Homo sapiens: one gene and its partners. The protein of the gene in region 7 purifies or fractionates together with the protein of the main gene of each other region. This does not show direct contact. Each region holds a gene or a part of one and is shown on either strand. Other genes may lie near its edges. The genes, in order: HERC5, PUM3, PKN2, DDX27, RMP64, RBM28 and PDCD11.

Region 1 (4,384 bases), on a different chromosome or scaffold from region 7:
TTATCATGAAATAATTTGTGAGACTTTTCCCTAGTAGATTATATGAATTAGAACTCATTTTCATCTTGCATTTATTCCTGCATCCTAAAATTGTTTGCATAATATTTTATTATAATTATGTAATGCATATTTTTTCTTAATTAAAACATAGTATTTAAAAAATAATTTTAGATGTACTGAATGTGATGCAGTAAATTGAAAGTTTTTTCTTGAGCTTCATTTCTAATTAAATACTATTAATAGTTCTAAAATCCATGTTGTAACTTTCATTATGGTGATTAACACAAAGTGTATTTTCCTTCATCAGGTTTGAAAGCATTTTACAAGAAAAAAAAATAATTCAGATCACATGTGGAGATTACCATTCTCTTGCACTCTCAAAAGGTAATTTTTCTGTAATATTAATAGTTTTGTAGAAGTAATACCTGTGTGTATATGTGGAGCCAGTAGAATGTCTATATTTCACTTGTAACAGGACAGAAATACAGTTTTGAATTTGATATGGTTCCGAGTACGATTCTTAAAGTAAATACATAATGAGAGAATTCTTGGATCTGTAAAATGTTCAGGTTTCCAAAATTACTATTCCTAAATTTGGTTTCATGTTTTTATTTTTCAAGTACGAAACAGTGAAAATTTTCTGAATAATCAAAACTGTTTTCTCTACATCTGATCCAGGCCTGGGGCCACCCTTTTCCAGAAACTGCTTCCCTTTTCCTAACACCTTTCCAACTTCCACTCTTCCGGCTCAGAATCCCCTTTTGTGGCCAGGCTGCAGACCTCTGATACGTTTTAACATTGCTTTTGAATTCAAGGATCTCCCTAGCCCTGTAGTATTTCCCATTTTCTATCAGACACTGTCATGGTGGGAAATGGAAGCAGTGAATATGAATTATTTCCTAAAGAAACTTGACTATGAGGCCAGGCTTGGTGGCTAATGCCTATAATCCCAGCACTTTGGGAGGCTGAGGTGGGAGGATCACTTGTAGCCAGGAGTTTGAGACCAGCCTGGACAACATGGGGAGACTTCATCTTTACAAAAAAACTTAAAAATTAGCTGGGCATGGTGGCTTCCACCTGTAGTCCCAGCTACTTGGGAGGGTGAGGCAGGAGGATCCCTTGAGCCCAGGAGTTTGAGGCTGCAGTGAGCCATGATCGTGCCACTGCACTACAGCCTGGGTAACTGAGCGAGACCCTGTCTCAAAAAAAAAGAAACTTACTGTGAATGGAATAATTAAGATAGAAGTAGGGTAATAGAGGGGAATTCGAAGTCAAGGGAATTTTTGTTAATATATAGGACAGATGTAAACATGTTCATAAACTGAATAGAATCTGGGATTCAAGGGAAGTTAATAATTAGTGAGTATTTGACCTTCATTGCAAGGCCTGTTGAGATTTGATAGTATGAACTTGTATTGGAAGAAATTGATCATTTGACTTCATTCATTCATGAACAAATATTTCATATTATCTACTGTGTTCGGATTATGAAGATGAAACACACAAGCCCTGCCTTTAAGAAGCCCAGGGTCTAGAGGCGTGTATGTACAAGGGTAAAGGGATATTCAGAGTTTATTACTAGTAAATCACAGTACAGAAAGAATAAAAGTTGGGGAAGCAAGAAAAGAAACTGGTCATGCTCATCATTATATTCCTGGTGGTTGACAGGTGCATGAAAATTGTGTGTGAAGGAGAGGCTCTGCTTCCCACCACATCCTGCACAATATCTTGCAAAGAGATTCCAGTAAACCTTAATTCTCTGGTGTATTTTTTTAGACTCTATTAGATATTGTCAGCTCTATCAGATAACATCTAAGAACGCTCCCTAAAAAATGTGCTCCATATATTCAGTTAATGGAAGAAGAAACTGACTCGTTCAAGAAACTGTAATTTGAAATTAATTTTACAGTTGTTTATTTGGGATCTTGTAATTTCAAATGAATTTTACAGTTGTTTATTTGGGATCATTAGGCACATGAGAGAAAACAGTAGCGCTGGGGTTTTTCATAGAGGTAGATTGCTTCTGTTTTTCATGGGCCCGTCCTCTGAGTGTTTTAAAGTAAATATTTCTTGAATTTGATTTATAATCAAATTTATTATGTTGAAGATATTATTTAATATGTTCAAATAGCTTCACTTTTGAAGTGAGGGATAAGGAAGTGTAACTGTCACTGCTAAAGAGAAGATTCTGTGTTTTTCTGTGGCAGACATAGGGTAACTGAGAGTACCATCAGTGCAAAGGTACAATATTGTGATATTATACTAGGTAGAGCATGCATAATGCTTTAGGGTAATGTCTGCTGCATTTTAAATGGAATAAAACAGCATTTGCTTTGTTTATGTCAAGGTGGTGAGCTTTTTGCCTGGGGACAGAACCTGCATGGGCAGCTTGGAGTTGGAAGGAAATTTCCCTCAACCACCACACCACAGATTGTGGAGCACCTCGCAGGAGTACCCTTGGCTCAGATTTCTGCCGGAGAAGCCCACAGCATGGCCTTATCCATGTCTGGCAACATTTATTCATGGGGAAAAAATGAATGTGGACAACTAGGCCTGGGCCACACTGAGAGTATGGAACACATTCTCAGATTCCTATTACCAACAGATATACTTGTTAGATGAATTTAATGGACCTCCCTGTCAAAAATGGTTCAAATCTTCACTTTCATTTTCACTGCTCTTCCTGATTACCTCTCTGTCTTCAGGGCAGAATCAGTCCAAGAGGCATACATAGTGTGGAAGTTGTTACTGTAATTGAGACATGTTTCAGGGCTGTGTGTGAGACGGGAAAGGGCATTGAATTAGGGATGAGAACCTGGATTCTGATTCCCACTTTGCAGTTTACTAACTGCAAGCCTTGCCCAGTCACTAAACTTTTCTCTAGACCTCATTTTCTTTTTCTGTCAAGTGACAAGTTTGGATGAGATGACCTTTAAAGCCTTTGCACTTAAAGTCTGTTAGTGTATTATTACAAAAGAATACTAAAATTATATTTAAGAACTCACATATCCTGATCTTATTCTATAAGGTATCAATTATGTCTGTAAACACACATGAAGAAACATGTAATTTCCATTATTGAACAAAGCTGATGGTGAAATTTCTCATGATCCCAAACAACTCATTAAGAGTTTTCAGGTGTAAGAAATTCTGCTGCTTTACCCAGCTGTGGTACTGTATGCATTACCCTGGATCACTGGTTACTCATTTCTCCCTGACACAGTGCAATGGTCATTACACAGAATAGCCCATAAGTCAGTGTTAGAAAAATATTCAAAGGAGAGAAGAGAATAAAGCGGCCATTAAACTACTTTGGCTGAATCTCTGAGTGCTTTTGACATGAAAATAATCATGAAGAAAAGAAGAGGTAGTGTCAGGTGATGACACTAGTAGATAATTTGAAAGAAAGGAATTGCTATGTTCATTAAAAGTAATTCTAGATGGCTGTTGGAAATATCTAATGTGCTGCAATTAAAGTGAATCAAGTCATAACTGAGAACAGGCTTTGGGAAGTGGTTTGACCCTTTCACAGGTGGGTGCCCCTAAGTGTGATCCTTTTGGCCACTGGTCCCACCTTCACCCTGAGGCGTAGAACTTGATCCTAAACATGGCAACATAGAGCCTTTCTTGTCAGAATATCATGAGAACTGTTGTCGCTGGGTTGAGAAGCAGCAGTCCAGGTAACTCCACTGTGAAACTCAGCATTTCCTTTTGGTCACTTCAGCTATTTTTTTCCTTACATAGGTAAAGATGATCCATCCCTTATTGAAGGACTAGACAATCAGAAAGTTGAATTTGTCGCTTGTGGTGGCTCTCACAGTGCCCTACTCACACAGGTGGGTGTACCCTTGTCTCTTTTTGGCTGTATTTTTAGAAGAACAGTTTGTATGGGAAGTTAGTGTTTCCCAGAGAAGAAAGGTCATCACTTCCTGTATGTAGGACTGTCCTTCTGATATTTAGGAGCTTTACTTTGACAGTGCTATTTATTAGTGATTCACTTTGCATCAGTGAATACTACTTTTTTATTTTATTTTTCTAGCATCTGATATGACATTCCCTTTCCTTAGGATGGGCTGCTGTTTACTTTCGGTGCTGGAAAACATGGGCAACTTGGTCATAATTCAACACAGAATGAGCTAAGACCCTGTTTGGTGGCTGAGCTTGTTGGGTATAGAGTGACTCAGATAGCATGTGGAAGGTAAGTTGTAAAGTATCAATAAGAATTGATAAAATGAGTGCAGCAAACTAGATAGTAATTTAATAAAATTTCTTTCAGTTTCTTTGAGATGTATCAAACATTTTCAAATCAGTGAAAATGCTTAATTTATATTATTTAGATAAATGTAATACCCCTTTTACTATACATGGTTGTTTTCTTTGATTT
Region 2 (4,384 bases), on a different chromosome or scaffold from region 7:
GAAGAATTGCGAGGTATTTATTACATACTAAAGATTATGTTATCATTTGCAATAAGTCACTTGTTTTCTCTTAAAATACCCAAGACTGTCCTAGAAAACAATTTTTGTTTAGGTTTGTCTTCTCCAGATCCTTTTTTGTTTTTATTTTTTCCTTGCCTGGGACAAATTTCCTCCCTTTGTTTCCAGAGAACTGAAATGAGATCTGAAGTCACTGTAATGTATTTTTGTTTTTCAGATGATTTGGTTGAGTTAAGTAAAGCCAAATATTCGAGAAATATTGTTAAGAAATTTCTCATGTATGGGTAAGTTGTTTTATGTATAAAATACATTTTTTCTTTGTCTTTTGAAGACATGGTTTCCAACTGTGCTCAGATGCGAGATAGGAAGTCTGTGGTCTTTATAAGTAATAGTAATGGCTCTCAGCAGATGCTTGTGTTGTTTTTAGAGAGTATCATCTTAAATACAATTATCGAAATTAATGTAAAATTATGGTACTGCCTTCATTCCTAAAAAGATACATGAGAAATGTCCTGCAAATCTCCTTGAAATTTATGACTTTGATGGAGGTATACCCTCACCTTCTGATTTGTTGGCATTCAAAAGTTTTAAAGACAGAGTGAGCAACAGATAAGCACTTTTGAAGTAGACTGGTATTGTAGCATAGTAAAAATAATTTTACATGATGGATGATTTGTGAATGTTTATCTTGAACCTCTGGAAGAAGAGAAATAGAATAATTAACTTATAATTAGCCACCAGTATTAAGAGGGTGGAGACTGGGGAGGGACAGGTGAGTAAACTGATAGAGGGTCAGTGGGTTAGAAAATGTCAACATGGGAGAATTTCCTAAATTAAGTGGAATTAGTACTTGTCTTGACCAATCTTTTTGAGTGTATTAATGTGCTAGAATATGATAATCAACAACAAAAAGTGTAATATATGCAGTTGACAAAATTTTCAAAAATGTATTCCTAGCTGTAGTTTCCAGCTGTTTAATTCTTTTAGGATATAGTTAAAATACTTGTGATTAAGTCCCATCTTCAAAAGGAATCTTAGAATATGATTTTCTATTTCCTTGAATCTTTTATCTTTTTTCCTGCCCTACTGTTTTTTTCGAGCAGAACAGTTTAATAGGAAATGACATTTATTGAGCATTTACTATGTGCTGGCCACAGCTTCTCAATGCATGCTAGCTCATTTACTCCTCAGAGTGACACAGATTGATGAGTTGGTCTTGGGAGAAGTAAGTTGTGTTTTATTGTCACCCAGCTTTCTCCTTCTATCATTTATTTTTCCATGATTGTGTTGCGTTTAGAAGTAAACCACAGATTGCAGAGATAATCAGAAGTTTTAAAGGCCACGTGAGGAAGATGCTGCGGCATGCGGAAGCATCAGCCATCGTGGAGTACGCATACAATGACAAAGCCATTTTGGAGCAGAGGAACATGCTGACGGAAGAGCTCTATGGGAACACATTTCAGCTTTACAAGGTGACATCTCCAGAAGTCTTTTTCTAGTATTTTTACTTTTCGATATGCTCTTCCTTAACTTCCGGTGCCCTATATATCTTTTGAATGTATTTTTACTGTGGCTGGTTCTTTAAGAGACCATCTTATGCCCTTGATTTTCCCTCATGCTTTATTTTGTTTCTGGTATAGTGAGCAAGTTTCTCTTTCTCCAGAGCATTGGCTTTAAATCCCCTTCAATTCAAACTTTGTTCCTCTCCTGAGTGCTCTGTGTGTAGCACTTCAATACTTCTATTTTTACAGTCATACTGAAGGACAAGACTCCCAATAGTTAGCAAAGTTGTGTGACCACCCCCAACCAGCTCTGGCTGAAGTGTATTGGGCTCTCTGTTGCTAGCTTCTCCTGTGTTTTTTCATGTGCATGCATTGCCCTTCTTCAGATTGTGTCTGGAGATGAAGGGGAACAGAGAGACCTAACCTTGGATAGAGTACAGGGATTGAATCTGAGAATAGTTAGCAGTGGGACTAGCTGGTTAAAGAATCTATTTCAAACCTTGGAACATAAATGCACACATGTGTCTGAAGGGATATGGATTGATTCCCGGGTTGCCTCCATTAGCCAGGTTCAATTCTTGGGTTGAATTTGTTGCTGTACTAATTTTGTTAACAGTTCGTTATATTTAATAGGAATAGCCAACTAATTATAAAACATATGGTGGCAAGAATTTGTGAAGTGACTACTTGATCTCATAATTGGGCAAGAGCTAGGTGCTTGGCAAGTAACTGTTAGCTGGTTAACTTGGTTGGCCTGGCTCTTTAAATGCACTGATAGATACACAGACTGAGAATCAGCTAATCAGGTTACTCCACAAGGATATACAGCAGAGCTTTCATTATGTAAATATGGGAAATCTTAAATTTGTTAAAACTTATTTTAAAATGACTAATTACTTTTCTTTTTCCTGAAGTGAAAAAATTGATTAAATTTAGAGGGGTTTGATTGTTTTGTTTTGTTGCAGTCAGCAGATCACCGAACTCTGGACAAAGTGTTAGAGGTACAGCCAGAAAAATTAGAACTTATTATGGATGAAATGAAACAGATTCTAACTCCAATGGCCCAAAAGTAAGAAAGTTGTTTTTGTTTTGTTCTTAAGAAATGACATTCAAAGGAGGAAGGTTTTCCATAACTGTTGCCCAGAAGAGGTAGCTATTTCCTGCTTACAAGTATTAATCTATTCTAAATAAGAGTGCAAAAGTGTTGGTTTGAAACCATTCTTGGTGCAAAAGGAGATTTCTTTTTCTGATATTGTACCCTATAAAATGATAACTAACATGCATTCGTGATTTATGAGCTTTTTTAAGCAATGAAACATTCTTTCCCCAAATAAAATGTTACATGGAAGCCATGTATACTAAACAGTTTCACAAATATAATCTGTTACTCAAATTTGGTTGTAGGCAAGGTACAGTGGCTCACGCCTATAATTCTAGCACTTTGGGGAACCAAGCTGGGAGAATCACTTGAGGCCAGGAGTTCAAGACCATCTGGGGCAATAGCAAGACCCCATCTCTACGAAAAAATAAGAAAATTAGCCAGGCTTTATGGCATGTGTGTATAGTCTTGGCTACTTGGGAGGCTGAGAGGCAGGAGGCTCACTGGAGCCCAGGAGGTCATGGCTGCAGTGAGCCATGGTTGTGCCACTGCATTCCAGCCTAGGCAACAGAGTGAGACCTTGCTTTAAAAAAATAAAAAAAAATTAAAAAATGGATTGTAAGACTTGGAAGCCTGTGCATGTGCCCTTCATGGCATCTGTCCAGTAGTGGAGTGGCTGAGCATAGCTTTTGGGACCCGACTGCCTGGGTACGACTCCTGGTTCCCCACTCCCCCAACTATTACTAACTGCAATCTTTGGCAACTTAACCTCCCTGTGCCTCAATTACCATATTTGTAAAATTGGGATAATAATAGTACAGACTTCATAGGAATTTTGTGAAGATTAAATGGGTTGGTTGTTCCAAAACACTCAGAACAGTGCTTTGCCCATAAAGGCAGTGTTAGTTTTTGCTGTCTACTTGGGTATCACCTGTGAACTTTAGGTCTTTTATGCCTGACCATCGGCCTCCACTGTACACCTGGATCCACCAAGTGTCACACTAGGGGGTTTGGATTAAGTAGGTGTTGTTGCAATTGCTGACAATGTTTGGTTCATTCAAGTTTTAATTCTGCTAAAATTATTTTGTGAAACAGATGGATTGTGAAGGGTGTTAACAGAAATAAAACAACTATTAAAAAAATACATCCACATGTGGATTTCTAATCATTATGTCCAGTGCTGGGGGAAAAAATGTAGATGTCCTTATTTAATAGAGCAGAGCATATTTCAAATGTTGATTTTATGTTTGCCGATTAAATACTAGAAGTTTATACTCTGGTCTTGGTTGTAGATGGCACTAAATCAATTTTACCATCTAAATTTTTGTTTAAGTTTTAGTATTTCTGAAAAATACAGTCTATTTTATGACAAATTGTATTCAGTAAAACCATTTCACTTGTTTAGATTACTTTAGGACTTTGAGATTACCTGTCTTTGTATGACTGTAGTGCCAGATCTGTTGTGTCTTTTTGCTTTTTTTTTCTGTTTTCAGGGAAGCTGTGATTAAGCACTCATTGGTGCATAAAGTATTCTTGGACTTTTTTACCTATGCACCCCCCAAACTCAGATCAGTAAGTTCTTGGTTTTTGTTTTTAAACTAAAACATGGAGGAGGAGCGGTGTAGAAATTTGAAAAACTGCTTTGATGTACGTTGTCTTGTGGAAATTTTAGAGTTGCTTCCTTATTTAGGGAAGATAATTTACTCAACTCCCTTTGAACACGTTTGCTAATTCCATTTAGGTTTTATTCCAGTAAACAATAGAA
Region 3 (4,384 bases), on a different chromosome or scaffold from region 7:
GACCATGAGCATCCAGAGGCTAATGACAATTTCATGCCAACATTAAGAAGTTGGTTGTCTCCTACCAACTCAGTCTAATTTAGCTGAGACTAGACCATAAGAAACATAAATTCGGCTGGGTGCAGTGGCTCATGCCTGTAATCCCAGCACTTTGGAAGGCCGAGGCGGGCTGATCACCCGAGGTCAGGAGTTTAAGACCAGCCTGACCAATATAATGAAATCCCATCTCTACTGAAAATACAAAAATTAGCCAGGCATGGTGGCATGTGCCTGTAACCCCAGTTATTCAGGAGGCTGAGATAGGAGAATGGCTTGCAGGAGAATCGCTTGAATCCGGGAGGCGGAGGTTGCAGTGAGCCGAGATCATGCCATTGCACTCCAGCCTGGGTAACAAGAGTGAAACTCTGTCTCAAAAAACAAAAACAAAAACAAAAAACAAACAAAAAACCATAAATTCACAGTTCAGTGGCAATTTTAAATGGAAAGACACGCCTTATTCACTATGATGCTTTTATTGCTAATTCATTCAGTGAAGAGGAATTATGCAAGGTTTAAAATGGCTTGCCTGTCCTGGTATATCCAAAACTCTTAATTCAGAAGATTCATCTATTTCTCCAAGAGAAGAAGCTCGTGGTGGGGCTGGAGGAGGTTCAGGCTCAAGATCAAAGTCCAATTTGGTTACTGTAGAATCACTTATAGAAGATAAAGTAACTCACCAAAACAGTAATAGAAAGTCTGTATTTTAAACAGCTTTAAAATTAAAGCAAACAATTTACTTTTTAAGTAAACAGAACACTACTTTCAAAATACTACTTGGGAAAAAAGCAAGACTCAGTACACCTGCTATAATCAGTACGTAAGAATGTCCCAATAACTTTGTATAAGAGATGCTTAAAATCTCAGACACATACCTAGCTGGAGGTGCTAGTTGAGGGATGCGTACATCAACCACTGGCACTGTAGTAGGCACAGGAGCTTGAGGGCTGAAGGTGCCAGAATGATTTACTGTAGGAATAGCTCTTCTTACTAGCCTTCCCCAAGTGGCAATATTAATATTCATTTGAGGAGCTCTGAGAAATGTTTTGCCTGTAGATGTTGAAAAAAACAAAAACAGCAAGTAATTTCTTTATGTATAACCAAAAGTCATAATTTAAAAATTCTTATCCATTAGTTTATAATCTACGAAGAACAAACAAAATTTGTCACTTAAAAAAACTAGTTTTTTACTATTTGCTAGTAAAGGCTAATGCAAAATAGCATACGTAGTTTTAAAAATAAATAGGTAAGAAATTGTTTTTTTCTCTTTAAGTCTAGTAGTAAGGTTTTAAAAATAAATCTTATCTTTTAGATATAAATTATAATAATTATGAATACATCAATATGATGTCTGGGTTTGCTTCAAATTTGAGAAAGTAGTGAGAGGATGGCATATGGATAAAATAAAATTGGCCATGAGTTGATTATTGTTGAAGCCGGGTGACTGTACATTTCACTAGTCTCTCCACTTATGGATACATTTAAAATATTCCTTAATAAGAAGTTAGAAATAAATGAATAAACAACAACAAAAAAACCCACACAGATGGCTATTACTTTTTAAATGGTAATTAGATTGTTTAAGAAAATATCAAAATGCTATGCATTTGATTGTTAGTAATTACCTTGTTGCTTTGAAAAAATTTTCTTTTGTCTTTGAAGTTTTGGTCTTCTTTCAATAACTGGATTAAAAAAGGTAACCTGCAGTGAAGAAAATTCAAGTTGACATGAAAATAGCATGGTTCATGAAATCTACTAAATTTATAAAATTTTAAAGCTTAAGAGAATCTTAGTTACAGTTTAGTCCAGCCCCTCATTTTCTACATGAGAAAACAGACATAGGAAGAATAATTGATTTGTCTCAAAGTCACATACCTATTCAGTGGCATAGCTCAGCCAAGAACTCAAGTCATCTGTCTTTCAGCCTAACACTCTTTCTACTTCTATATTATGCTGCCTACATATGTAATTTCAATTGTAGTTATGCACATTTAATAAAATACATTTATTACCTCTGCAAATAAAGTACCCTGTGGTTCCAAATAGAGACACATGCCATGCCGTTGGTTGTCTAAAAAATCTTCTAACCTCAGAAATTTTACAGCACACAGAGACCGCCAATCACGCCAATAAACTGAAATTTCCAGTTCACGTGACTAGGATAATTAAAAAAAATAATAAAGAAAACAGAAAAGACATCATTGGACACACACTTGAATAAAATATCACAAAAAATATGAAATACAAATACAATAAACAAAAATTACACACACAAAGGTCACACTGTTTTAAAGAGGTTTGTAACATTTCTCAACTGTATAGTACTTTATCAAACTTACACATTTTAATTCAAAGAAACAAAACTTACATTGTGACATTTTCCAGCTAAGGTATTCCTAAAGTATACTTAAAGAATACACAACTGGGAACAACCAATACAGATGAATAACCACCGAAACTCCTTCTCTTAGAGCTTCAATCTTTCAGATTTCCCTCCTCTATTTGCCATCATGTGCTATGTTACTACCCCAATGCTTGCTTCAAATAACTCATTTGAAACCTTTGTATTTATTTGTCTCATTGCTAAGCCAGAAAAAGTTCTGCAAATAGCATTTATTCTGTACTCACAATGTGCCACATATTGTGCTAATAAGCACTTTAAGAATATTAGGTCATTTAATTTTCAAAAGAATACCACTGGGTAGCAAGACCCATTCTGCGTACGAAAGGAAGAAAGGGGAAATTCAGACCAAGCTTTATACAGAAAGATATTCATTTATTATAACAATAAAACATAATTTAAAAAGCAAATTAGCAAGAATTTGAATGTTCAAAAACCAGGGACAAGTTAATTATACCAAAGCCGTATGAGAGAATACACAGTAGACACTGAAAATAATGCTTATGTGGCGAAATATATTTAAGGTTTTAATAACCAGTGTTTAAATGCACCTGTAGAACATAGTTCCTAAGCTGTGGCCAAACCATATACTGACCTCTACCTATATGTTTTAACGTATATACATTTTAATCATAAAGTACTGGACTTTTCTATTATTTTGTTTTTCAGGCTTCTGTACACCATCCACAAAAAGAGATAAATGTTTCTCCTTTTAAGGCTCTACAAAGCAATAAATTACTTATTTTATATAACAAATTTCAATTTATAAACTTATGCATTTCATTATGTAACGTTTTGGTATAAACAGTAAAAAAAAATCTATTGACCTTAAATTATATATCTAGTTGATGTTAATGAACACGAAAAACACTTATAAAAAATGCAACATGAAAAGAATCAAAATACAATGTGCCAGAGGGTTTCACAGTCAAACAGGAAAAGAATTAGAAAAATACGTCTATGGCAGTGAGAATGTGATCTCAGGGCCTTCCACCTCATTTCTTCTCTCTGACTCATAATTAATATGGGAGAGAACTGTCATGAAAGAAGTATGAGGAGAATATAATTAAGACTAGCAAATGGCATATAGAAGGGATGGGGTACTAAGGCTATAATATTCTATTGAAGTTAAAAGTGTTAAGTATTTTGGAAGCAGTTATTTTGTGAAATAAACTGGAGGAAGAATCATGTCAGGATTGGTAATTTAGACTCCATTTTTTTAGATTGGAGGAAGAGAGGTCTACTTTCTCCTGCTTTCTTCCACTGTTACAAGGAAGACTTGTTATGCATCAGGAAGATGCAAGATGCACATACGCTAGAGACAGAATTAATACTTGTTAAAAGTTCTTATTACACTTTTACACTGGCTAAAATGGTAAGATTTTGTCTTATTGTGAATAAGAGAAGGTCCAATCACCTCATTTGCTATTTATTCCAGCCAGTCTGGTAAAACTAACATATTGACTAATTTCTCTTTCCTCTGTCTCTTCATTCCATGCTTCAAACTAAAGTACATTATAGGCTGGGCAAGGTGGCTCATGCCTGTAATCCCAGCACTTTGGGACGTTGACGTGGGTGAATCACTTGAGGTCAGGAGTTCGAGACTAGCAACGGCCAACATGGTGAAACCCCATTTCTACTAAAAATACAAAAGTTAGCCGGGCGTGGTGCACGCACCTGTGGTCCCAGCTACTTGGGAGGCTAAGGCATGAGAATCACTTAAACCCAGGAGGTGGAGGTTGCAGTGAGCCAAGATCATGCCACTACACTCCAGCCTGGGCAACAGAGCGAGACCCTGTCTCAAAAAAAAAAAAAAATTAAAATTTATAAAGTATGTTACAGATCTGAGATTTGGGATAAGTCACCTCACAGACCTTAAGCTAGCTTTCCTAGAATTCTATACTCTACATTAAAGTTTTATGTAGAAAGTAGAAAAGTTCCTCTTCA
Region 4 (4,384 bases), on a different chromosome or scaffold from region 7:
TCTTGTGGAGCATTATTAGGGGAGGGTGTCTGGATGAACAGCTGTTTGTGACTGTTTCTAGGCGTTTTAAGGATGAACAGATTGACATCCTCGTGGCCACTGATGTGGCAGCCCGTGGACTTGACATTGAGGGGGTCAAAACGGTGAGCAGACACTATCTTCCTTGGACTTTTGGTGGAAGTCTTTTTGCCTCTTCGCACCCCCCTTCCCTTGCCAGGCCTGACGTTCATTTTTGACCTTCTAGGTAATCAACTTCACAATGCCTAATACCATCAAACATTATGTCCACCGGGTGGGGCGAACAGCACGTGCTGGCAGGGCTGGGCGCTCAGTCTCTCTGGTGGGAGAAGATGAGCGGAAGATGCTGAAGGAGATTGTAAAAGCTGCCAAGGCCCCTGTGAAGGCCAGGATACTTCCCCAAGGTGAGCAGGCACCCCTGTGGCAGTGCAGAATGGCTCGGTGGGCGGGGCAAGGACAGAGTGTAATGGCTGAGAGCAGGTACTTTGCAGTTCAGAGCCAGATTTGAATTCCAGCCCTGCTGCTTCCTTGCCGAGTGACCATGTGCAGGTTTCACCTCACCTCTCTGAGCTTGCCTCCTGTGTGTAGAAGGGAATTATGACAGAATTGTAAACACAGTGCCCCATTTAGGTGGAAATTGAGAAGAGAAGGTTGCTTGGGGCAAAATTCTCACTAAACTCCTCTTTCCCTTACTGTTGGTGGTGGGGAAGAGAGAGATCAGTACTCATTCTTTTTGGGTCCTTTCATTGATTTTGTTCCTCTGATCTGTGGGGGTCTTATAAAGCACATCCTCTTTAAAGTCTTTTTTTGTTTTGTTTTGTTCTTGAATTCCTAGGCTCAAGCAATCCACCCACCTTCTGCCTCCCAAAGTGCCGGGATTAACAGTAATGAGCCACCATGCCCAGCCTTAAAAATTTTTAAAGTTATAAAAATAATACATATTTAGCCTGAGCATGGTAGCTCTTGCCTATAACCCAGCACTTTGGGAGGCCAAGGCAGGAGGATTGCTAGAGGCCAGGAGTTCAAGACCAACCTGAGCAATATAGTGAGCTGCCTGTCTCTAAAAAAAAAAAATTAGCTGGGCATGGTGGTGTGTGCCTGTAGTCCCAGCTATTCAGAAGGCTGAGGCAGGAGATCTCTTAAATCCAGGAGGTTGAGGCTGCAGTGAGCTATGATTGTGCCACTGCACTGCAGCCTGGGCAAAAGTGCAAGACCCTGTCTCTAAAAAATGAAATGAAAAGTACGTATTTATTGTTGGAAATTAGTAAATAAAAAAAAATGTAATTCTGTGTCAAAGAGCTCACCACTGGTAGCATTTAGGTGTATGTCTTTTCAAACCATTTTTCCTTTCTTAAATGTCCCTTTTATTTTTTTCATTTTCATTGTCTTCATTTAATCAGCGACTAGTTATTGAGTCCTGCTGTGGGCCTAGTGCTATTGATTCTGTTCTAGGTGCTGGGGATACAGCAGGGAACAAAGCAGAGCTGTGGTTCTGGGAGAAAGAGACAATAAATAAGCTAACAGTAGATGTGATTGAGAACAGCAGGAGGAGACTGCCTCATTAAGCTGTTAAGGAAAGGCCTCTGCACAGCTGGCATTGGAGCTGAGTCCTGGGTGATCGGAATGAGGCAGCCATGAGAGGTCTGAGGGCAAAGTGCTGAGCTGAGAGAACAAGGGTGGAGGCTGTGAGGTAGGAACGAGCTTAGTGTGTGAGAACAAGAGAAAGGTCAGGAGGCTCAGGCGTGGTGAGCAGGGACACACAGAAGATCAGAGCGGTAGGCAGGGGCCACTCTGAGTCTGGGGGATATGAAGCAGAGAAGGCACACATTACAGACACCATTTCCTATGTCAGTAAATGCACAGCTAAATTATTTTCATCAGTTACACAGTATTAGTAGTCACCCTTATTTTATTTTATTTAATTTATTTTTGAGATGGAGTCTTGCTCTGTTGCCAGGCTGGAGTGCAGTGGTGCGATCTCGGCCCATTGCAACCTCTGCGTCCCGGGTTCAAGTGATCCTCCTGCCTCAGCCTCCCAAGTAGCTGGGACTACAGGTGCATGCCACCACGCCCAGCTAATTTTTATATTTTTAGTACAGGTGGGGTTTCACCATGTTGTCCAGGATGGTCTCGATCTCTTGACCTCGTGATCCACCCGCCTTGGCCTCCCAAAGTGCTGGGATTACAGGCTTGAGCCACTGCCTTATTTTGTTTAAGATAAGGTCTTGCTTTGTTGCCCAGGCTGGGGTACAGGGGTGCGATCATAGCTTACTGTTGCCTCGAACTCCTGGGTTCAAGCAGTTCTTCTCCTCAGCCTCCTGAGTAGGTGGGACTACAGGTGTGTGCCACCATGATGGCTAATTTTTTTTTTTTTTTTAGATGGAGTCTCGCTCTTTTGCCCAGGCTGGAGTGTAGTGGTGTCATCTTGGCTTACTGCAGCCTCCGCCTCGTGGGTTCAAGCAGTTCTCCTGCCTCAGCCTTCTGAGTAGTAGCTGGGATTACAGGCGTGTGCCCCCACACCCAGCTGATTTTTGTATTTTTAATAGAGACGGGGTTTCACAGCATTGGCCAAGCTGGTCTCAAACTCCTGACCTCAGGTGATCCACCTGCCTTGGCCTCCCAAAGCGTGGGATTACAGGCATGAGCCACTGTGCCTGGCTTTTTTTTTTTTTTTTTTTTTTTTTGTAGAGACAGAGTCTGGCCACGTTGCCCAGGCTGGCCTCAAATTCCTGGGCTCAAGCAATCCTCCCACCTCAATCTCCCAGAGTGCCGGGTTACAGGTGTGAGCCACCATGCCTGGCCTACCCTTATTTGTAAATCCTTTTTATTTTCTCCCATTGAGATGTCATCCTCAAATTCCGGGACAAGATTGAGAAAATGGAGAAAGATGTGTATGCAGTTCTGCAGCTAGAGGCGGAGGAAAAAGAGATGCAGCAGTCAGAAGCCCAGGTGAGGCTGCGAGGCGGGATCTTGTTCACAAGGCTGCTCAGTAAGCAAGCTGCTGCATCCCTGCTGGTGCTGCCCTTCTGAAATGTTTCTCCCATCAGAGCCCCAGGCATTTGCAGCCCGTGGCTTCCTGTGTTAGTAGATACGGGTTTCACGGCAGGCATCCTTTTGTTATCTCTACAGATCAATACAGCAAAGCGGCTCCTGGAGAAGGGGAAGGAGGCAGTGGTCCAAGAGCCCGAGAGGAGCTGGTTCCAGACCAAAGAAGAGAGGAAGAAGGAGAAAAGTAAGTCAGGGAGGTTCCGCAGAAATCTAAATACAGAATTACCCCACAGGACTCAGCAGTTCCATTTCCTAGTTCTATACTGTAAAGCAGCGGTCCCCAACCTTTCGGCACCAAGGACCAGTATCGTGGAAGACAATGTTTCCACATTTGGGGTGTGGGGGTTGCATTAGATTCTCATAAGGAGTGCACACCCTAGATCCCTCGCATGCGCACTTCACAATAGGGTTAGTGCTCTTATGAGAATCTAATGCTGCTGCTGATCTGACAGGAGGCCAAGCACAGGTGGCAATGCTTGGTTGCCCAATGCTCACGTCCTGCTGTGCAGCCTGGTTCCTAATACGCCATGGACTGGAACCGGTATGCAGCCTGGGGTTGGGGACCACTGTTGTAAAGGATGTAAACAGGGACTCAAACAGATACTTAGATGCCAGTGCTCTTTGAATTACTGTTCATAATAGCAAAAAGGTGGAAACAAACTATGTTCATCAACAAGTGAATGGATAAACAAAATTTGGGGTGTGTGTTTATATACACACAATGGAATATTATTCAGCCATGAAGTTCTGATACATGCCATAAGGATGAACCTTGAAAATCTTAAGCTGAATGAAATAATCCAGACACAAAGGGACAAATACTGTCTGATTTCACTTACCTGAGATATCTAGCTAGGCAAATTCACAGAGACAGAAATAGATTATAGATTACTTAGGGCTAGGGGAAGGGGGGTTATAGGAAATTATTAGTGGTTGCAGAGCTTCTGTTTTCAATGATGTCAGTGAGTAGCCTCCTGATAGGAGTTTTGGAAACAGATAGTGGTGATGGTTGTACAATGTTGTGAATGTAAGTAATGCCACTGAATTGTATACTTAAGATTGGGTAAAATGGCAGCCTTTGTTTTATATGTGTATATATAACCACAATAAAAATAATTTTAAAAAAGTTAGGAGATATTTAATACAGATTTCCTCTCCATCTCCCTTTAAAAAAGACCCAAAACACTTATAAGTTCACATTGTTCTATGCCTCGCCTTTTCACTTAATTTTGAAGCTTAGAGATATGTTTTATATAGGCCCACATATGCTGCCCTTTTTGTTTTTTGTTTTCAGACGGAGTCTTGCTCTGTCACTGAG
Region 5 (4,384 bases), on a different chromosome or scaffold from region 7:
TCGCTGAAGAGCCAAACCTTAGATGCAGAAACAGATGTGTTATGTGCAGTCCTTTACAGCAATCACAACAGAATGGGCCGCCACAAACCCCATTTGGCCCTCAAACAGGTGAGGAAGCCCGGTAGGTGAGACCCAACCTGTTCACTTGAAAATGTAGATCACACTGCCACTTACTATATTGCTATTTATGGAAATCTCGTGGAAATCTCAGTAAATTACTTGTGTTTTATAGGCCTATAGCCCACAGTTACATGTGCACTTTCTTTTTTTTTCCTAAAAGCATTTCAGCATTTCAAAAAGTAATTTTTGTTAGAAAAGAAGTATGTTTAGATTCTTTCCCAGTCTTGTTTCTAATAGGCAAGTAAACATTTTCTTCATTATATACAATCTATAACAACAGTGCCTTTGCCCAGCTCAAAGATAAAGTGATTTGAGCAAGACAAAATGTTGGACATTAAGAAACAGTTCCCTGGGCATAATCAGAATGCTAAAATTATTTTTAAAAAAACTTGTCTACTTATTATGGGGTACATAATCTAATTGGTGGTATGTTAGAGTAAATGGGTACATAGCAAGTTGTGGTGTAAACTGGTTTCATGTAATGTTTGGAGCTTAAGACAAAATTGGGCCCTCCAGCTCAGGGGCTATACCATAGAGTAGAGCCTCTCTTAAGCTGGCTTCCTGATATGCTCATTCATTCATTCACTTAATTCTGCAAGTATTTTCTGGAAGTTCAGAAGGCTATCCATTGTGTGACAGGGCTACCTTGCAAGTGTTTTTGAACTTTCTGTGTGCCAGGCATTCTGCTTAGTGCTGTGTATAGAGGAGTGAAAAAGGTAGACACAGTCTCTAACCTTATAGATGCATGCTTTCTGGTTAGTTTTCTACCCCTAGTACTTAAAGCAAACAGGGTGAAGATTTCATCAAAGAAAGATCTGGGACCATGGTCTTTCCCTAAATTTTCCATTCTAGGGTGGCTTTTATCTTTTTCGGAGTCTTTTTGATCCAAAAGCAAGCTTGCTAACCCTCAAAGTGAATATATTTCTCCTTCTAGCTTCTGGGTTGTGAATAATCACCCCGTCATCAAAATTTGGCATTCTCTAGTCTCTCTCTCTTACGTAGCTCTCCCATCCAGGCAGTCCATAAGACAAAACTTCCTCTGCATCTGGTCCCCTCTTCAGTTCTGGCTGCCATTTTCCTTTCTTAGACCTTGTCAACTTTTAGTTGTCTTACTATCATAACTGATGTTTCCTCCTTCAGCTTTTCCTAAGTTCTGGCATATTCTAAATATTAAAACCAGGTTAATCATCTGAAAACACAACTTTGATTTTTAGTCGTTCTCCATTGTGTCCTGAGTAAAGACCAAACTTCTTAGTTTGGCTTACGAGATCTGTGATCTGGCCTCTTCAGTCTTCTTAGTTCGGGCTTCTCTCTTGCGTTCAGATAGATTATATTCCAGCCAACCTGGACTCAACACACCTGCATGCTCACTATGTTTGTTCCTGCTTCTGAGTCTGCTTACCTGGTCCTGTATGTTTAGAATGCCCAGCCTCACCATGTCTGCCTGTTAAAGGCCTTCCTATCCTCTAAGTCCCATTTTAAGCCTTTCTGGCAGTGATAATCTGTGTTATAGTAATCTCATTTTAAGTTGTATTTTTCTGATTATTACTGAAGTTGCTTTTTTTTTTTTTTTTTTAAATTCTTGGCTATTTGGGCCTCCTCTTTGTACTTATAGCATTTAATATAGTCTGTGTCATGGTAAAGTTATTTGTGTATATATTTTATATTCCATGTGATCCCTGAAGTAGGAAACATGTTTTATGCTTATGTTACTGCTGCAGCTGCTATTACCACTTCTACTACTGCCTTACAACTGCTTAATATTTCACAGTTTTCAGAGAACTTTCATGTAAGTACTAGAATTGGCCTGTCTCTAAACATTCCCCTAAATGGAACACAGAAAGTAGTTTTGATTCCTGTTCTGTGGAGTACATGTAGGGCATGCTGGCAGATAAAGTGGTATTAGAAACTTCCCTATCTCTAGTTGCTAAAAATCTAGTAGTAAAAATAGGAAGACATGTAAAATATTTAATTAAATGCTAAAATAAAAACAGACCCTATTTAAAATTGCAATCTTCTCAGCACTCCCTCTCTGCCTTATTTGTCTTCATAGCACTTAACACCACCTGCCATTGATTGACTGCCTTTCTCTCCCAGCTATAATGTAAGCTCCACAAGGGCAATGTATTTTGTCCCTTTTGTTTACCACCATAATCCAGTTCTTAGAACAGTGTTCAGTAAGCACTCAATAGGATTTTTAATTTTTTTTAAAAAAAGTAAGAGCCATGCATGGTACAAAATGCTGTAGGAATTCTGTAGTCCTCAGGAATAACACACAAAGGGCAGCATGGGACTGCATCTAGACAGATACAAAAATTTGGATGGGCATTGATACTGGCAACAAGAGTATCTTGCCAGAGCTGCAAATATACTTCTAGAAATTGAACCAAGGTTATGGATTCTGTTTTAACAGCGGTTTTCAAGAATAATGGAGGGAACAATCCTTAAATTCTTTAGGGTCAGCTCCTATCTTTTTCAGTTTTCAAGTCTGGACACCATCCTTTGAGGGAGGTATTGACAAACCCAGATGGTAAAGCACTTGGAAAACATAGTAAGTGAACTGCGGTTCAAAAGAGAAAAAAAACCCAAGAGAGAGAAGGGAGAAAGAGAGAAGATGCAGAGGAACATAAGAACAAGCTTCATCTAATCAAAGAATATATTTGTTCAGTGATTAAAGCCAATCGTTTTCCTCATCTCTGTGGTACTTTATAGACTGTTGAAATTTAGTAGTTAATAATTTTCTATCTTGTTTTAATAGTTTCACTATTAAAAATCATGTTGTCGGCCAGGCGCGGTGGCTCATGCCTGTAATCCCAGCACTTTGGGAGGCCGAGGTGGGCGGATCACAAGGTCCAGATCGAGACCATCCTGGCAAACACGGTGAAACCCCGTCTCTACTAAAAATACAAAAAATTAGCCTGGCGTGGTGGCGGGTGCCTGTAGTCCCAGCTGCTTGGAAGGCTGAGGCAGGAGAATGGTGTGAACCCAGGAGGTGGAGCTTGCAGTGAGCCGAGATCACGCCACTGCACTGCAGCCTGGGCGACAGAGTGAGACTCCATCTGAAAAAAAAAAAAAAAATCTTGTCTTAGCAAAATTATAATCTTGAGAATAACCTATACTCGTTTTGGTCCCTTTTATGACATCAAGCTCATTGTGGCATATACTAATTTCTTAGGAGTCACCTGATTTTAAAAATGTGTTTGGCTGGATAAATTCCAAATTTGTAACTAGAAGCAATTGCTTGCGCTTTGGATTTCTCTACCCTGAAAAAAAATAAGGTATTCTGTGATATTTAGCATATTTCCATACTTTGAAAATCTAGAAGTCTTTGCTTTCCTGGTCATAATCAGTGACCCTGTCTGCATTACATACACATGAATTTGAACTGCTCTTCTTCTTTCAGGTTGAGCAATGTTTAAAGCGTTTGAAAAACATGAATTTGGAGGGCTCAATTCAAGACCTGTTTGAGTTGTTTTCTTCCAAGTAAGTAAGTGGTCCAGTTGCTTTGTGATGTGGTGGGCTGGGAACTCAATGTCTTGTGATCTCCCTTTGGATTTCTCTATGCTTGCTGTTGGAATATAACCAATTATACCTCAGCTGTATAAATTTTGTTTTAATGTGGGGTACCTGGTGTTTGTGGTAATCTTCTGACATTGATCTATGGGAGTGACTGGTGTGACATTGAAATCTGGGTCATGGTAGATTATATTAAAACATCAGTGGGCTGTTATTGTGCTTAACTACCTCAAGTTGAGCTTAAAGCAAGTCTTCACTTGAAAACTGCTATAGAAATGCTTTATATTTAAAAATGAAAGTAATGGGAGCTTGCACATAGCTGAAAATGTGAAGGGTCGCCCAGGGAGGACATGGAAGCTCTGTGCTTCTTCTGCCATACCTTGCCCTATGCATCTCTTTGTTTCAATCCTTTGTCATATCCTTTATAATAAACTGGTAAATGTAAAAAAAAAAAAAACAAAAAAAAAACCCTTTTTTTTTAAGTGAAAGTAATGTACTTTTTCTATTTTTTTCAAGTGAAAATCAGCCCTTAACTACCAAAGTATGTGTTGTCCCCAGTCAGCCAGTGGTGGAGTTGGTGTTGATGAAGGTTTTGGGAGCCTGCAAGTTGTTGCTCCGCTTGTTGGACTGCTGCTGCAAAACTTTTCTGTATCCTTGAATATCTTGAAATATACCTTCTTTTGATTTGGAATTGTTTGGATATTTTTAACAGTATTTTTGTTTGAAAGCTAACACTCCATAGGAGTTA
Region 6 (4,384 bases), on a different chromosome or scaffold from region 7:
CTCAAGTGTTATCCAGCACTCAAGTTCTGGCTCAAGGCCCAACATCTCCGTGGGGACCTCAGCCATCCCAGGGCATTGTGACCCCTTCCTCTAAGTCCCCGGCACACTCGCTGATTGGTACCCTCTCATTCGACAAAGCATATGCCATTGTGGCTTACTTGTCATTTCTTTAGGTCTTGCCTTCCCAAGTAGATCATGAGCCACTATAAGAACTAGCTCCCATAGTCCCAGCCCCTGGGCCTGGTACATGGCAATGCTTAGTGATTGGTGATTGAGGATAATGGTGGTAAAGGATGTACCAGACAGTCATCTCCTGAAGAGATGCCGAACAACCTGTCCTTGTTTTATGTATTTTCTCTTTCTTTCCTGTCCAGTTTTATTCCTCTCATAGTAACTGCTAAAAAAATATCAGTTCCTGTCACTCTTCCACCCCTTTTCTCCCTCTCCCCTGCATTGTGGTCTGGGCCTTGGTCCACTAGCAACTCCCCTTAGGTGTTGCTTAATCTGCCTCATGGCCAAAGCCAATCCCATTCCTGTCCCCCGCTACCCAAGGGACTCCCAGTCTGTATGCACAAGGCGGGATGTGAAGTCTGGATGTGCAAGAAACCCAGCTGTAAGAAACAGCTTCCCTCGGCTTGGCATGGTGGCTCATGCCTATATTCCCAGCACTTTGAGAGGTCAAAGTGGGAGAATCACTTGAGCCCAGGAGTTCAGGACTAGCCTGGGCAACATAGCAAGATCCCACCTCTACAAAAAAAGAAAAAATTCAGAGTCTCAAATGTCCCTTCATCTCCTTACTCTCGACCTGTCTCCCTAGTTCTCTGCCGCCTTTTCCTCTCCCCTGGATCTGACACTCAATTGTCTGCATGCACTTTTCAACTGAAAGAGACTCCAATGCCATCCTTCTGATGAAATTTTTGCTTTGGATACTACTGCAGAAAAAATGCTATCTTGTATTCTGGTCCATGGTGGGGAAGACCCTGTCGTAGAACCTGGCAACTCAAGTGGAGGGAGGGGCCAGAACATTGTTCTTATGCTATTTACAGTGAGACAACAGGATTGATGCAGAACTTTCTTTTTTTTTTTTTTTTTTTGAGACAGAGTTTCATTCTTGTTGCCCAGGGCTGGAGTGCAGTGGCATGATCTCAGCTCACTGCAACCTCCACCCCCCAGGTTCAAGCAGTTCTTCCTCAGCCTCCGGAGTAGCTGGGATTACAGGCGTGCGCCACCACGCCCCACTAATTTTTGTATTTTTGGTAGAGACGGGGTTTCACCAGTGTTGGCCAGGCTGGTCTCGAACTCCTGACCTCAGGTGATCCACCCACCTCGGCCTCCCAAAGTGCTGGGATTACAGGCATGAACCACCGTGCCCGGCCGTGATGCGCAACTTTCTAATAACATACTTTTGAAAGTGCCCAGACATACATCCCTCCTCTGGTACCACAGTGGCCATCAGTTGCCAGAGAACATGAAATTATCCAGCCCTCAGCTCTGCAGCAGGATTCTGAGGAGTAAAGCAGGCCTGTAAAGTACTCTAAAGTACTTCAGAGAGGTAATGCCACAAAGCGAAGAACACCTCTTGGAGGCAGAGCCCCTCAGCCCTATCCAGGCCAGCAGTGTCCACTTGAAATCTGAAAGCAGCCTCCCTCACCAAACCAGCAAGATGGAAAACCTCCCTGGGTTGGCAAGTGGCCCTGGGAAGTACATGCCCCATCTCTGTCAGGATAGCAGTGGAGAGGTTTCGTGCCAGTGCCAGCTCCACCCACCCAGATGGTACTCAAGACTCCAAGCCTGTCAATGGGGTGGAAACTTTCTGGCATTTTCTGTCAGAAGGGTGAGTTAGCACTGAACCATCTCATGTGTCTTTTCACTGAGTAACAGCCCATATCCATTCCATGAAATGAGTGACTGCTTTGTTGAATCAGATAGTAACAAACATTTATTTGTAGTCTGGTTGTGTCATATCATGGTTGAATTGCAAACAGGTTGGATAGAAGAGTCAGCAAAAATCAACAAAAGCATTCTGTAAAAAACTTTTCTAGAATTACAATAAATGGCATTGTATATTTTATTTATAAATTATGTGCTGCACATCATTTTTATCAATGAAATTTATAATAAATTTCTGTACATATATACATTTTTATCCCAGAGAGCCAGTTGTTAAGCATTTACCAGCAATAAATGCTTTTTGTTTCCTGCTTACACAGGTTCTGGGAGTGGCCAGCCCACTCTTTGAGATGTCCCCACTTGCTTTTTTAGTTGTCCAAGTAGTGTTCTGCCCAGCCTTCCCGACTCTCTTTCTTATCCTTCCCTCGAAACTATTCTGTTCCTTATGCTTAAATACTTTCCAGTCATGGGAGCTTTGCTGTAGGCCCTTGGCCTTTCATGGGTAGCTTCTGATACGTGCATGGGTGTTAATAGAGGAAGTTGACCCCGCCTGGGAAGAATAATGACCTATGGAGACCTGGCCCTTTCTCTTATGGCTTCTTAAAGTGACAGCTGTTATGGGAAGTTCAGGCATCTTGACGTGGAAAATACATTGTTCATTTTCTTTTAATTTTTTTTCCCCTAACCACTATACCAACAGGGATGGAAAGATACTTTTAGTTGGAAGGAATTTGGAGCCCTTAAACGACACCTGGAGCAGCTGCCTGTGGGTGGGGCTTTGCACAGTCTCATCCTGGCAAGGGAGGACGAGCCAAGGACCAGTTTTGCAGAATTGTCATCATGAGGCCCTGGTTGTGTGCTGGGCTGGGGCATTGCCCCTTTCCAGGAGGCCAGGCCAAGCAGGGCTGCCTGGCTTAGGCTTTTGCATCTTCAGCATCCTTTCACGTCTCTTATCTCAGGTGACCTTCACAGCAAGCCTGGTGAAGGTTATTGAGAAGCAGATGTCACCACCTAGTCTTAGAGCTGATGAAAGCAGGATGTGGGGAAGTCCAGACCCTCTCCTGAAACCCCTTGGCCACCTGAGCTAGTACCAGAGCAAGGTCCCACTTGGCCGTGAGTGCTGTCTCTAGGGCCTATTTCAGGAACTGTCTCATATATAAGAACAGAACACTTTTTGCCAGCTATACCAAATGTTTTTGGGATTAAAAAAATAGTTTCTCTTTTCCAAATTAGGTGGTAAGAAAAGGAAGGGCATTTTCATTCTCACATTCTTTGAATGTTGAAACGTTTTAAAAACTTCCAGCTGGGCTTGGTGGCTCATACCTGTAACCCCAGCACTATGGGAGGCTGAGATGGGAGGATCCCTTGAGGCCAGGAGTTCAGGACCAGCCTGGGCAACATAGTAAAACTGCCCAAAATTTGAAAATTAGCCTTGTGTGGTGGTGTGCACTGTAGTCCCAGCTGCTCGGGAGGCTGGGGCAGGAGGATTGCTTGAGCCCAGGAGTTTGAGGCTGCAGTGAGCTATGGTTGTACCACTGTACTCCAACCTGGGCAACAGCGTGATACCCTGTCTAAAAAAATAATAAAAATAAAAAAGGATTAAACCCTTTACTTGACCAGCTTCTTTTCCTGCTACCCCTGGACTAACTAATCATTACATATTTTTGTAGTTGTTTTTTCTTTCTTTCTCTCTCCTGATCTACCACAAGCCAAATGTACTCATATACATACTAATAGGTGAAAAAAGAGAGTCTGAGGAGTGAATACATTTATTTTGTGATTTCCTAGGCAGTAGCTAGGACTCCCTTAGAGGTTGCTAATAGGGAAAGGGTGCGCTGGCTCTACTCAGTTTTATAACTGCTTTTCCCCGAATTCTGCAGACATCTTCATTCCCCTGGAGGTCAGATAATGGCTATTTATTTTCCATAGCCATGAAAATCTCTGGGGAGAGCTGTGGCAATTTGACGAGAGCTATTAAAGGGACATTAGGATTGAAGTAGCTGCTCAGGCAGTCACATACCCTCGATCCTCATCTGCAGGGACAGCTGCCAGAACGAATGAGCCCAGCTCTCCTGCCCGCAGCCAGCCGCGTGTGGGTGCAACTGGCGACCAGCCACTGGAGTGAGTCCCAGGGAAGGGGACAGGTTCTTAGAATCACCATTTGTCTCTGCTCTCTCCCTCTCTGCAATAGGACGGGCACTCTAAACTCACATAATGGTTAATAACAACAGCTAACAATTACTGAGCACCTACTATGTGTCAGGCATGTGCTGAGGATGATCGCATCAAGTAAAATGCCTGTCTCTGGCCCAGAGGCCCAGAAGAAGAGAAAGAAGGGAAATCTGTAGGAGGCAAACAGTCCCTTACCCCTCTGCTTGCAGACCTTCAGTGACAGGACACTCCCTGTTTGCTCCAAGCACCTCTTGCATTTTCAGAGCTTGGGACACAGATTCAGGGACTTGCACTTCGATAGAGTGCCTCAGGACCCCTCGTC
Region 7 (4,384 bases):
ACCTAGCCATACTAGCCTTCTCTCTGTTATATATTACATTGCTTCTGCCTGAACGCCTTTCCTTCTTTATCTAGGGAACCCTCATTCTTTAGATCTCAGCTTAAGCATCCCTTCCTCAACAGTCTTCCAGGCTCCCAGACTTAGTCAAAAATTCCTTTATGATAAACTCTCACGGGACCTTGTACTTTCCCTTCTTAGCACCTGGCAAAGTTGTAATTTTAAATCTATTTGTGTTCCACTTATTTTCAATAACAGGCTTCATTCGGATTTCCCTTACCTTCAGAGGTTGTTCTTGTGTCACCTGCTCATTCAGCTTTTTGGTGTAGGCATCACAGATTTCAGTGACTTGCACAAAGCCCTGGAGGCCATTGGGGAGACTAATCACCAGTTCCAGTTCATTCACCTCTTTCACGCAACCCAAAATACGCATTCCCTCACACAGGGACTAGAAGAGAAAAAGTGAAATGTGTACAATAAGGATGGGAACAACAATAGGGAAGGTTGGAAGGTCTGGCTTCTAGTGTCAATTTAAAAGCTATAAGGCCAAGCACAGTGGCTTACGCCCTATAATTCCAATACTTTGGGTGGCCAAGGCAGGAGGACTGCCTGGGCTCAGGAGTTTCAGACCAGCCTGGGCAACGTAGTTTCTCCAAAAAAAAAGATTAGCCAGGCATAGTGGTACACGCCTGTAGTCGCAGGTACTCGGAGGTGAGTGGATCGCTTGAGCCAGGAGGTTGAGTCTGCAGTGAGCTGTGATCACACCACTGCACTCCAGCCTTGGCAACAAAGTGACACCCTATCTCAAAAAATAAAGATAAAAAATAGGCCGGGTACAGTGGCTCATGCCTGTAGTCCCAGCACTTTGGGAGGCTGAGGCGGGTGGATCACCTGAGGTCAGGAGTTCGAGAGCAGCCTGGCCAACACGGCAAAACCCCGTCTCTACTAAAAATACAAAAATTAGCCGGGCATGGTGGCAGGTGCCTGTAATTCCAGCTACTCAGGAGGCTGAGGCAGGAGAATCACCTGAACCTGGGAGGTGGAGGTTGCAATGAACTGAGATCATGCCACTGCACTCCAGCCTGGGCAACAAGAGTGAAACTCTGTCTCGAAAATAAAAAAATAAAAATAAATAAAAAATAAAAACCTACAGGAATTTTATAAATGAAAAGAAATACACATGTGTACATATCAGTGAACTTCTCAAATATCTGACCGAGCACTGTAAAAGGTCTAGATTATACAACAGTGTTAACAGCACTGGGATACTGGAGGACACCTTTGCCTTTTACATTATTCTGAGCAACCCAAACTCAAATGCCTGGCAGACAACACAATGAAGGAAGCCAGCTAGTGGAGACAATGGCAGTCTGGAGTGACCATGCCAGGTCTAAAGGACACAACCACTACTCAGCTCCTTGTCATTACAAACATGAGGGAATACGGGCCTTCTGCTATCAGTACTTTCAAATTTTTACAAGAAGCCAGAAATCATATTTTCATGTAAAAAAATTTTTAGTTTTCAGCCAGGTGCAGTGGCTCACGCCTGTAATCCCAGCACTTTGGGAGGCGGAGGCGGGCAGATTACAAGGTCAGGATATTGAGACCATCCTGGCTAACATGGTAAAGCCCCGTCTCTACCAAAAATACAAAAACTTAGCTGGGCGTGGTGGCGGGCGCCTGTAGTCCCAGCTACTCAGGAGGCTGAGGCAGGAGAATGGCGAGAACCCGGGAGGCGGAGCTTGCAGTGAGCAGAGCAGAGATGGCACCACGGCACTCCAGCCTGGGCGACTGTGCGAGACTCCGTCTCAAAAAAAAAAAAAATTTTAGTTTTCTAATGTTGGCACCAAGTCTAACAATTTTTTTAAAGTATCATATAGGACAAAATATTGACTCTGAATCTAGCCAAATATGAATGTTCCTCTTCAAAGTTATTTAACTTCTTTTCTTTTTTATAACTAACACATATTGGTGTTATCATCTAAAAATGTAAGGCAGGCTGGCCGCGGTGGCTCACGCCTGTGATTCCAGCACTTTGGGAGGCCAAGGCAGGCAGATCACGAGGTCAGGAGTTCCAGACCAGCCTGACCAACATGGTGAAACCCCGTCTCTATTAAAAATACAAAAATTAGCCAGGCGTGGTGAGACACCTGTAATCCCAGCTACTCAGGAGGCTGAGGCAGGAGAATCGCTTGAACCCGGGAGGCAGAGGTTGCAGTGAGCTGAGATCACATCACTGCACTCCAGACTGCGCAACAGAGAGAGATTCCGTCTCAAAATAAATAAATAAATAAAATAAAATAATTTCAAAATTAAAAAATAAAAAATAAAAATGTAAGGAACACAGACCACTTCAATTCTTGGAAATGGGTTTCACATCTATGAAATGAATGGGTAAGATGAGAATGACTGCTAAAGTTACTGTCCATTCTAACCTCTGAATATATCAGAACTCAAGTCCTGTGAGGACACAAACAAGCCCACGACAGCTTTAAAGGAAAAAAAGGGGGCAGGCACGGTGGGTAGCTCATGTCTATAATCCCAACACTTCGGGAGGTTGAGGCAGGAGGATTGCTTGAGCACAGGAGTTCGAGACCAACCTGGGCAAAATAGCAAGATCCAAGCCCTACAAAAGATTTAAAAATTAGCTGGGCATGGTGACACACACCTTTAGTAGTCCCAATTTCTCAGGAGAAGCTGAGGCAGGAAGATTGCTTGAGCCCAGGAGTTCAAGACTAAAGTGAGCTATGATCATGCCTGCATTCCAGCCTGAGCAACAGAGTCAGGCCTGTCTCTGGAAAATAATAAATAAATACAAAGAAAAAGAAAAGATTCCTGGCATCGGTTAGCAATGGAAGGAAATCATGCTTACTCCTTAGCATAAATTCCAAGCATCTCTACACACACACGCATGAAATATAATATATTAAGGGGAAAATGGAATTAAGGGAAAAAAGAAGGAAAGAAGAAAAAAAGAACATACACAAACTTAAGCAACCAAGGTCGATTGTTTAAATGAAAACCAACTTTAACAAACCTCAACACTAAGGATTTCAAACTTCTCTCTTGCGGACTTGCTGCTTTCTCTCTTTTCGATTTTCAACTTTTTTGTTTTTGCTGGCCCCTTCTGGCTCTTTTTTCTTTTGGTGGATCCCTCTTCAGTAGAAATCTAGAAGCGGGTAGGGGGAGCCCACAAAGACCCAAAAGAATAAGAAGCAATCTGAGTTTTCCCTCCTATTTCAGGTCATCACTCACCTTGCTTTGTTACTCCTTCACTCCACCCTACCCCATCCCACTCCCAATTGTTCCTTTAATTCTTGCTTAAAAAAAAAAAAAAAAGGGGGGGGGCCGCCAATGTTCCCTCTGCCCAAGGTCTGAGAAGCCTCCTTCATGTTCCCAAAGTCTCTTCTCTCTTGTGTTCTCCCTCTCTTGACTGGGATGAACACTGGGTTCCCCAGTTTGAGAAGCAATGTAGAATAGTGCATGAAAATGGACACCAGAGTTACACAGACCCAAGTTAAATTCTCATCTTTTCCACCATAACAAGCTATGTGGTTTCAGCTAAATTATATAAAATCCAGGCACAGTGGCTCACACCAGTAATCCCAACACTTTGGGAGGCCAAGGCGGGAAGATCACTTGAGATTAGGAGTTCAAGACCAGCCTGGCCAACAGGCTGTATTTTTTTTTCCACTAAAAATACAAAAAAATTAAGCCGAGCATGGCAGCACGCACCTATAGTCCCAGGTACTCGGGAGGCTGATACAGGAGAATTGCTTGAACCAAGAAGTGGAGGTTGCAGTGAGCTGAGATCACAACACTGCACTTCAGCCTGGGCGACAGAGCAAGACACTGTTCCTCATCATGGAATTGCAATCAGTGCTTCACAGTACAGTTGAAAAGATTACATAATACAGACCTAAAGCCACACACTCAAATGTTAGTTCCCTTTCCCCAAGCATTTGGAGCACAGCCTAGTCTAGGTGAGACTGTGAAGTCTAATGCAAATTCTGACCATTACATGTGGCAAGGAACCCCTGTAAAAATGCAATGATCAGTCAGACACAGTGGAACATGCCTGTTGTTCCAGTTACTCAGGAGGCTAAGGAGGGAGGATCGACTGAGCCCAGGAGTTTAAGTCCAGCCTGAGTAACAGAGTGAAACATCATCTCTCCCCATCTCTTGAAAAAACAACAACAAAAATAACAAAAACATCAGCTGGGTGCAGTGGCTCACACCTGCCATCCCAGCACTTTGGGAGGTCAAGGTGAGCAGATCATCTGAGGTCAGGAGTTTCAGACCAGCCTGGCCAACATGGTGAAACCCCATCTCTAACAAAAATACAAAAATTAGTCAGGTATGGTAGCAGGCACCTGTAATCCCAGCT

Evidence for each region.
Region 1: the proteins of PDCD11 (region 7) and HERC5 purify together in Homo sapiens (affinity purification with mass spectrometry; one large-scale study listed by BioGRID and IntAct). This does not show direct contact.
Region 2: the proteins of PDCD11 (region 7) and PUM3 purify together in Homo sapiens (affinity purification with mass spectrometry; one large-scale study listed by BioGRID and IntAct). This does not show direct contact.
Region 3: the proteins of PDCD11 (region 7) and PKN2 purify together in Homo sapiens (affinity purification with mass spectrometry; one large-scale study listed by BioGRID and IntAct). This does not show direct contact.
Region 4: the proteins of PDCD11 (region 7) and DDX27 purify together in Homo sapiens (affinity purification with mass spectrometry; one large-scale study listed by BioGRID and IntAct). This does not show direct contact.
Region 5: the proteins of PDCD11 (region 7) and RMP64 purify together in Homo sapiens (affinity purification with mass spectrometry; one large-scale study listed by BioGRID and IntAct). This does not show direct contact.
Region 6: the proteins of PDCD11 (region 7) and RBM28 purify together in Homo sapiens (affinity purification with mass spectrometry; one large-scale study listed by BioGRID and IntAct). This does not show direct contact.

The regions. Positions count from the first base shown.
Region 1 is NC_000004.12:88,459,788-88,464,171, forward strand, and holds part of HERC5 (E3 ISG15--protein ligase HERC5), read left to right. Parts: intron 1-307; coding exon 308-384; intron 385-2,347; coding exon 2,348-2,569; intron 2,570-3,744; coding exon 3,745-3,836; intron 3,837-4,067; coding exon 4,068-4,198; intron 4,199-4,384.
Region 2 is NC_000009.12:2,826,880-2,831,263, reverse strand, and holds part of PUM3 (pumilio homolog 3), read left to right. Parts: coding exon 1-13; intron 14-235; coding exon 236-302; intron 303-1,315; coding exon 1,316-1,490; intron 1,491-2,485; coding exon 2,486-2,589; intron 2,590-4,112; coding exon 4,113-4,191; intron 4,192-4,384. UniProt on the Homo sapiens protein: Inhibits the poly(ADP-ribosyl)ation activity of PARP1 and the degradation of PARP1 by CASP3 following genotoxic stress. Binds to double-stranded RNA or DNA without sequence specificity. Involved in development of the eye and of primordial germ cells.
Region 3 is NC_000001.11:88,802,199-88,806,582, reverse strand, and holds part of PKN2 (serine/threonine-protein kinase N2), read right to left. Parts: exon of another isoform or gene 2,792-4,384; intron 2,193-2,791; coding exon 2,049-2,192; intron 1,738-2,048; coding exon 1,662-1,737; intron 1,087-1,661; coding exon 912-1,086; intron 693-911; coding exon 566-692; intron 1-565. UniProt on the Homo sapiens protein: PKC-related serine/threonine-protein kinase and Rho/Rac effector protein that participates in specific signal transduction responses in the cell.
Region 4 is NC_000020.11:49,236,089-49,240,472, forward strand, and holds part of DDX27 (probable ATP-dependent RNA helicase DDX27), read left to right. Parts: intron 1-61; coding exon 62-143; intron 144-244; coding exon 245-422; intron 423-2,860; coding exon 2,861-2,967; intron 2,968-3,147; coding exon 3,148-3,250; intron 3,251-4,384. UniProt on the Homo sapiens protein: Probable ATP-dependent RNA helicase. Component of the nucleolar ribosomal RNA (rRNA) processing machinery that regulates 3' end formation of ribosomal 47S rRNA.
Region 5 is NC_000003.12:113,013,172-113,017,555, reverse strand, and holds part of RMP64 (nucleolus and neural progenitor protein), read left to right. Parts: coding exon 1-108; intron 109-3,523; coding exon 3,524-3,603; exon of another isoform or gene 3,604-3,607; intron 3,608-4,152; coding exon 4,153-4,284; intron 4,285-4,384. UniProt on the Homo sapiens protein: May play a role in cortex development as part of the Notch signaling pathway. Downstream of Notch may repress the expression of proneural genes and inhibit neuronal differentiation thereby maintaining neural progenitors.
Region 6 is NC_000007.14:128,301,871-128,306,254, reverse strand, and holds part of RBM28 (RNA-binding protein 28), read left to right. Parts: 3' UTR 1-4,384. UniProt on the Homo sapiens protein: Nucleolar component of the spliceosomal ribonucleoprotein complexes.
Region 7 is NC_000010.11:103,399,179-103,403,562, reverse strand, and holds part of PDCD11 (protein RRP5 homolog), read right to left. Parts: intron 3,776-4,384; exon of another isoform or gene 3,733-3,775; intron 3,167-3,732; coding exon 3,035-3,166; intron 446-3,034; coding exon 278-445; intron 1-277. UniProt on the Homo sapiens protein: Essential for the generation of mature 18S rRNA, specifically necessary for cleavages at sites A0, 1 and 2 of the 47S precursor. Directly interacts with U3 snoRNA. Involved in the biogenesis of rRNA.